Linked DNA regions of Homo sapiens. The protein of the gene in region 1 purifies or fractionates together with the protein of each later gene. This does not show direct contact. Each region holds a gene or a part of one and is shown on either strand. Other genes may lie near its edges.

Region 1 (3,953 bases):
ATTATCCCCTATAAAATTTTGCCATATTACTGAGGGTAGGGGAAAGTGTTGTTCACAGATATGCCCTCCAAAGTGCCCAAAATAACACCTTCGAAAGGTTTTAAATTGTGTTTGTTCATGAAAAACCTCCTGTGATGCTATCAGACCGATATTATTCTAAACTGTGCTCTAAAAAGATAAGTTTTGGGAATTACAATATGTTAATATCTAGCAGGACTTGCACTGGCAGAAGGATCAGTCTTTGTTTTGTCTTGCTTGGCCTTGGCAGGCAGTGTTCGTGAAAAAGTTGAATCTGAATTCAATAGAACTAGGGGAGGGCGCAAGGAGGATCCAGTTGACAAAGGCACCACCACATAGGGTATTCACTCAACAATCTTAATCTGTCCCACCACTGGGGAAGGCTTTTGAGATTGTCACTTCTACTCAGCTGCTAAAGCAGAAACTACATATACACTGAGTGATGAGACAAACAGTGAGCACATGGAGGGTCTGAGAAACCAAAGCAGGCCAAAGTAAACACGTGGAGACCCCAGAGGAAAGATGGAAGAAAAACAGCACTAGGATCAACTGAGAAATGAAAATATCATCAGCGGAGAGTAAGAAGTGATAAACCTGCCAGAGGTAAGACCTCTACTGAAAATGCTGGAAGAAAAGGAAATTTCCTAAAAAGTAATCATCATCACAGAAAAATCAACAGCTTTTATGTAATGTTTTCTGAAGAGATATTAACTTTAGAATCTGAACATGGCTTTTATCAAAATAAAGTCCTGCGGGGGGAAATCCATTAAACAATACCAGTGTTGTTATATAAATAAAATAAGGGTTCCTTCTCAAAGGCTTATTTATATCTTAGACTTAAAAAATATCAAAGACTACATTATAATCTTAACATGGCAAAAACACTCTCCATATCACTTTGTTTACCTGCTAACTCAAATGCAAAAACAGATTTGAAATTAAGCAAGAGATGTGAGTTGAGTTCTTTCGCTTCTCCCTTCTTTAGGACTGTAAAGTTCAGCTTTACACAGCAGTAGATAAACAGGAACTTCACCCTTCACTGCCTTCTACTAAACTCTCCATCAGAAGGACCAGGAGACTTAATCTACAGCCCACAGAGTCCATAAATCCCACCGCTTCCTGATGAAGCACAGTGGGACTAATTATAACAAATGAGTTGCATATCATACTATCAACTTGGAATATTAATCTCTCAGTCATTTACAGCCCACTTTCAACCCCAAATGGGAACATGCAAGGAGACAAGATCCAAGAAGCCATATTAAATCCAAGTGAGGCTTTAAATCCTGGAGAAACTTTTCTGATCACTGCGGGATTTACATAAGTATTCAAGGCCAAGATGAAAGCAAAATTCTCTAGCCAAAATACCGTTGATCTGATCAGTCTGAAATTATCTGTTCTAATGAACGAAACCAGCATGTGTGCCTTATCAATGCTGCTTATCTCGCAGGGGCAGACAACCTGGAAACTGTGTTAGAATAGATCCTCAAATAAGAAACATTCAGTTAAAATGATGGGCTGCCTCTTGACACTGTGAATGTTTTGCTGCGTTCAGACATCAAAGGAAAACTGTCATGAACATCAGGTAAAGGCAGCAGAAAAGGAAGCACAGTTTGGTGTTTGTTTCATTACACAGCTCCCAAAGGGGACAATCGAATACTAAGCGGCAAAAAAGTTGTGGGAGACGGCCTCTCTCCAACCGGAATGTCCAAAGACACCTGAGTGCCGAAAATTCCCCCATACTCAACGTCTGAATTCTCCCCTCTGCCCTCTCCTCTTCGTCGGAAGAAAATCCGCTAACAATCCCATGCCTGACCAAGTGGGAAAAGCTTTCAACTTCACTCTACTTCGTCCAACCCTCGGGATAACGCACTCCCAGATCCCGACCTCCCCTTGAACCTGCCCTCTGAGATCTTCTAGTTTCTCCCGAGGGTCCCTCAGAAAACCCAGCCCGTTCCTCCCCACTGCCCCTTAACCCCTTCCCCTGCCCCAGGCCCCGTCCGCGCCCCAGCGCAGACCATCACCCGCCGCCTCCCCGACCCCCTTCCCGGAGCCCTCAACGCTGGCCTGCCCCTCGGGGCCTCCTCCTCGCAACCCCACGCGATGTTCCTCCCGCCCGCGGCCCCCTCCCCCTCCCCGCGCCTCACCACTCTCCCTCAGCAGCGCTCCCGCGAGCAAGGCCGCGCCCCCCAGGCGCTCGCCCTCGGGGGTCCCTGGCGGAGGGGCCCCTAGGCCCACCACGCCCCCGCGGATAAAGGGTGACGCAGCGGACCCCGCCCCTGCCCCGCGGGCCCGGCCGCCTCGCTCACCCACACGAAGAGGCTGTCTGAGAGCAGGTACTGGGCCACATCGCGGGCCCGGGGTCCCCCGGCGCTCGGCCGGGCGGGCGCCGGCGGCTCAGGCTGCAGCGAGGCCGTTAGCTGGTCCGGCTCGCCGGGGCCGGCCTCGGGCTGGCTGAGCGCGCGGTAGGCGCTGATGATGGTGCCCAGCAGGGCCAGGCCGCTGAGGCCCGTGTAGGTGCGGAGGCTGGGCCAGGGGAAGCGCTCGAGGAAGAGCAGCGGCATGGCGGCAGCGGCGACCTCTGGCCCCCAGGCTTCCCTGCGCTGCGGCCGGGCCTCTGCGGCGGCCTCGCGAACGGCGCCCACGGGCTCTGGCGTCGCTGCCGCTGCCGCTGCCGCCGCCGCCGCCGCGCCGGGCCGGGCCGGGCCGCTCCTGGCTGCTGGCGCCGCTCCGCCCCGCGCTGCTCCCGCTGCTGCCCCTGCCGGCGCGGAAGAGCCTGGGCGGGCTCGGGACAGGCCGCCGCCCCCAGCGGGACGCTGGCGGGACGGGCGCAGGGGCGCGGCCTTCGTCCCCCGCCCCCAGCGGTCGCGCCGCCGCCTAGCGGGCGTAGCCCCGGGCCTCAGGCCGGGGGGCGGGCACCCAGCATCATCCGCCGTCCGCACCACGGCTTGGCTGGGCCCGCAGACACAGAGGGCACCTGCTCCGGCCGCGGCGCAGGGGTCACTCGGGCTCGCAGGCGCTGGCAGGCGGGCAGGGCCTCAGGGCGCGGGGCACCCTGGCCACCAGGCCGTCGGCCACTTGCCCCCCCCCCACCCCATTAACCCTCTGAAGAGGTTACCCCCAGCACTCCTAGGGGCCGCGCAGCTTCCCTGGTGCCCGAAACCCCAGAAGAAAGAATATTAACAGTCTTTCAAGTTTCTGCTGTTTGCTAGTAGCCTCCAGCAGAAACTAAAAAATGAACCTGATTTAGCGGGAAATAAAAATGTGTTCCCTCATACCCCAGAAGTGAGAATGTCAAATGGTGCAGCTGTCTTGGAAAATAACCTGTCCTTTCCTTAAAGTCAAACAAGAGTGACCATTTGACCCAGTAATTCCACTCCTCTAAGAAAAGTGGAAACATACCTCCACACAAAACTTGTACACAAATGTTGATTACATTCTAACAATCAAAAGATGGGAACAACGCTAATGTCCGTCAAGCGATGAGTGGATAAATGTGATACATCCATAAAATGTACTATTCGGCCATAAAAATGAACTACTGATACATGCTACAATAGGAACGAACCTTAAACACGTGCTAAGTCAAAGAAGACAGCCACAAAGGTCCACGTGTTGTGTGATTCCATTGATATGAAATGTCCACAATAGGCAAGTACATATACAGACACAGAAAGTTGATTAATGATTGCTTAGGGATGGGAGGAAGAGGGGAGTAGGGGGTGATAAAGGGTGCAGGTTTCTTTTAAGAGACAGGGTCTGTGGCCCAGGCTAGAGTACAGTGGCATGCTCACTGCATCCTCCATCTCCTGGACTCAAGAAATCTTCCTGCTTCAGTCTCTCCAGTAGCTGGGATTACAGGCGTATGCCACCACACCTGGCTAATTTTTAATTTTTGGTAGAGACAGCGTCTTGCTATGTTGTCCAGACCAGTC
Region 2 (4,110 bases), on another chromosome or scaffold:
GATGCTGGTCTCCTTGATCCTGCTTATTACTTTATCCTCTGTATATCAACAGTGTGTGGCTGATATGGGTACCCAACAGACACTTATTGAATGGATGAGAGAGAAAGGCAAGTTTAACACTAAAATACTATTATCTACTAACCACAAAACGTGGGAAACATGCAGGTGGTAGAAAATGGCAGGGATTTATCCCTGGAAAGGGACTGTTATTCACCACCCATGGGGGTAGGGCTAGGTACACGTGTCGTCCTTCTTTCAGATTCTTGCTCAGGATCAGAATTTTGATTTGCTAAAGGGTCCCTCAACTTATCTAAAGGAAATCATAGGCAGTGGCTCACGCCTGTAATCCCAGCACTTTTGGAGGCCGAGGCGGGAGGACCACTTGAGGTCAGGAGCTCAAGACCAGCCTGGTCAACATGGCAAAACCCCGTCTCTACTAAAAATACAAAAATAGCCAGGTGTGATGGTGGGCACCTGTAATCCCAGCTACTTGGGAGGCTGAGGCGGGAGAATCGCTTGAACTCGGGAGGCGGAGGTTGCAGTGAGCGGAGATCCACCACTGCACTCCAGCCTGGGCAACAGTGAGACTCCATCTCAATAAATAAATAAATAAATAAATAAATAAATAAAATAAAACAAAGGAAATCACTTCTCCCTCAGTGGGTAGCTTCTCCAGAGAAAAATGTTAAAGCTGACACACAGCCTTTTCTAATGACCAGTCCTGGAAAACTGTGCCTAAGCTCCGTCAGCACTGTAAGCACTGAGACCAGGACCTGTTCGTTGCTGCATTCCCAGCACCTAGCCCAGTTCATCGCCCAGAGGAGATGCCCAAAATGTTTGTAAAATGAGCATGTAAGACACAGCCTTCTGAGGAACGGCCATCCCAACAACTCTTACACTGCAGAAGCACTTAATTTTAGAAACAGGCCAAGACAGCTGCAGAGGGGCTCCAGACCTACGCCTCTCCCTGGGCAACAGTTTGGTTCCTAGAATTCAACACTCACCACCATGTGCCATAGATAACAAAATATTATCTTCCCCACAGTTGCCCTGTATCAAATTTGAATACACTTGGCCAATATAATCTCATGGCTAATACAGTACAGCAACCAATAAGATTTCTCTTGCCCTTTATTTTTTTATATGTACTTTGGCCAGCAAGGATAGATCAAAATGCTAAAGAACAATTGAAATTGAAGAATTCCACCATTAATTTCATAACCAGTAGTTCCTGGCTCACTGTGTGATCCCAGGAAAACCACATTGCCTTCTTGAACTGTCAGCTTCAGCTACAGTCCTAATGCTCTTTATCTAAAGGGTAGTTTGGGGAAGATTACTTAGTAGTTGTAACATACTCCGGGACCAATCCATGAAAGATGCCATAAATCAAATTAATTATGAAACAAAGGAAATCATAAATATTGAAACCACTTCAAAACCTGAGAAGTTGAGAAGTGAGGAAGATTTAAAATTATGCCTGTGGCGCTGATACTAACTCACTGTCAGACTATAAGACGAGACACACATTCTCAGAAGATTCATGACATTCCCAACAGATCTTTTTTTTTTTTTTTTTTTTTTGAGATGGAGTCTCGCTTTGTCGCCCAGGCCAAAGTGCAGTGGCGCAATCTCGGCTCGCTGCAAGCTCCGCCTCCCGGGTTCACGCCATTCTCCTGCCTCAGCCTCCCGAGTAGCTGGGAATACAGGCACCCGCCACCACGCCCAGCTAATTTTTTGTGTTTTTAGTAGAGAGACGGGGTTTCACCGTGTTAGCCAGGATGGTCTCGATCTCCTGACCTCGTGATCCGCCCACCTCGGCCTCCCAAAGTGCTGGGATTACAGGCGTGAGCCACCGCGCCCGGCCAACAGATCTTTAATATTTGGAAATGTCAGATGTTTCTGTCCTCCAGCAGCATTAACTTCACATGGAGTATGAACAGTGACAAGCAATTGCAAAATTAGAGCTGTTCTCCGTTGCTGTACCCGTGCCTAACTGTTAACACGCAGTCTACCTTACCGAAAGTCAATTCCACACACTCAGTGAGAAAAGCCGTTTAACTGGCTGTAAAAATACTCCGCCCCCTACCTGCTGACCACCGCTAACACGCCAGGAAAACAGCAACATCCAGCAGCACAGCTGCGCTCCCTCGCCACGACTTCCTAACTTCCCTCCACTTGAAAGCACTCTCATCAGTGTGTGTTTGTCTAAAAACTCTTCTTGGAGACTGAAGAAGAAACACATCCAAGTGAAACTGAGAGGTCAGCTTCTAAAGCGGAGGCTGAACTTTGCAAGTGGGGGCGGGGGGAGTTAGTTCGGTCCCCCAAGCCTAAAAGAATGGGGCATGGTAAGGGGGACGGCCCCTTCCTTCAGCGCGGCACACGCTCCGCAAAGGGCCTGGGGCCGGCCCACGAGAACACCAGGGCACCTGCCCACTTGCAGCGGCCCCAAGAGACTCCTGGGCAGAGCACCTGGGGATACCAGGTGGGGTCGGGGCGGGCGGCGGGGCTTTGTCCCCATTCGCCCCTCCAGGCCGAAATGGGGGCGGTTTCCGCTGACCCCCAAGACCGGGAACTAGCAGGGTTCGGACGCGGGTCTGGAGGGTCGGCCCCACCACCTCCGGCAAACCCGAGGGTCCCCGCTGCCCCAGCCTCCTCAAAGAGGTGCCTAGGGTGGCGTGTAGGGGGCAGCCAGGATGGCGGAGGCCGGTACTCACAGAGCCCACTGGAGCCGGTGCTGGTGAACATGGTCCCGCCGGGCTCGGAGCCCCAGAGGGCGCCGGGGGAGGGGAAGCTGAAGTGCGAGCCCCAGCGACCGCGCAGGCGCACTCTTGGCGGAGCGACGAATCCGGCGCCGCGAGGCCACTCGCCGCTGACGAACGGCGCACCCGGCGCATGCGCAGTCAGGGGCGTGCGCCCGCTGGGTCAGCGCCCTCCTTCCTGCCGGGGAAGGGAAGTGCGTCGGTAGGGGAGGGCTCACCTCTCCAGGTTGAAACGATGGCGGTCAGAACCGCCTGAGGTAAAAACGGGTGGCACTGGGGAAGCGGAGGCGTAGCTCCCGAGAGCCTCACACTTGTGCTCAGTGCCGCCTCACCCCTGGTGGATCCGCGATGGCCGCGGATTCCCCTGGATTGCCGGCGCTGGGCAGGAGCGCCACTTCTAATCTCTCCCGAGACTGGACGCCCGGCGCCTTCCACGCGCGTTGTGTCTTTCCGGGCGGTCCCTCGAAGCTGGCTACCCCGCGGGCTGTTGACTGCAGTGGGATCTGGTCACTCAGATGCGGATAGAGGGGTACGGGAGCCGGAGAGGTGGAACAGGTCCTTCCGGGTGCGGAGAGCTGGGCCGTCCAGCCGCCTCTTTGTTCCCGCGTGGGTCCCGCGCGGAATCCCCACCACCGGGGCCGACTGTCGTGGTCCCTGGAGTCAGCACCCTGCCCTCCCCGCCGTGGTGGCGGGTGGCTGGGGGGTCCCCGGCCCGGCGAGCCCGGCGGAGCGACCCTGCGCTTCTGCCCTGGCGAGCTTCCGGACTCAGGCCATTTAAATTTTTTTCCCCAGCAGAATGAAGTTACTCTTTGCCAAAGTCACGGTTTTTAAATGTGTGAGCCTGAAAACATATCATGCAGTCGTTTTAAAAAGTTTTTTTTTAAGTTGATCTCGTGAAAGTAGGGAGTAAAAGAGTGGTTATTCTTGTACAGAGGAGAGTTAGTGGGGAGGAAGATGGGGAGAGGTTGGTCAACAGACACAAAGTTATAGTTAGAAGGAATAAGTTTTGGTATTCTCTTGCACGTTTGGATGACTATACTCAACGATAATGTTAACTTCAAAATAGCTAGAAGAGAGGATTTTGAATATTCTCACCACAAAGAAATGACAAGTGTTTTGGTGATGGATGTGCTAATTACCCTGATTAGATGGTTGCACAATGTGTATATGTATGGAACCATCACACTGTACCCCAGAAATACATGCAATTATGTGAGAACGCATGTTATGGGGAAAATTGACCACACTACCCAGCTAAATGAAAGGGATAGGCTATGGAGTACTAAAAAAAAAAAAGCATTTTCAGTGCTCATAAGTGCCAGCCAGTGTGCTAAATCTGTGATTCGTAGAT

What was found. Proteins that work in one complex are often made in the same cells at the same time.
Region 2: the proteins of AMFR (region 1) and UBAC2 purify together in Homo sapiens (affinity purification with western blotting; 4 studies listed by BioGRID and IntAct, with this or other methods). This does not show direct contact.

Annotation. Positions count from the first base shown.
Region 1 is NC_000016.10:56,422,746-56,426,698, forward strand, and holds the start of AMFR (E3 ubiquitin-protein ligase AMFR), read right to left. Parts: upstream 2,801-3,953; 5' UTR 2,583-2,800; coding exon 2,328-2,582; intron 2,245-2,327; exon of another isoform or gene 2,166-2,244; intron 1,990-2,165; exon of another isoform or gene 925-1,989; intron 1-924. UniProt on the Homo sapiens protein: E3 ubiquitin-protein ligase that mediates the polyubiquitination of lysine and cysteine residues on target proteins, such as CD3D, CYP3A4, CFTR, INSIG1, SOAT2/ACAT2 and APOB for proteasomal degradation.
Region 2 is NC_000013.11:99,199,544-99,203,653, reverse strand, and holds the start of UBAC2 (ubiquitin-associated domain-containing protein 2 isoform 1 precursor), read right to left. Parts: upstream 2,801-4,110; 5' UTR 2,746-2,800; coding exon 2,715-2,745; exon of another isoform or gene 2,243-2,714; coding exon of another isoform or gene 2,087-2,242; intron 1-2,086. UniProt on the Homo sapiens protein: Restricts trafficking of FAF2 from the endoplasmic reticulum to lipid droplets.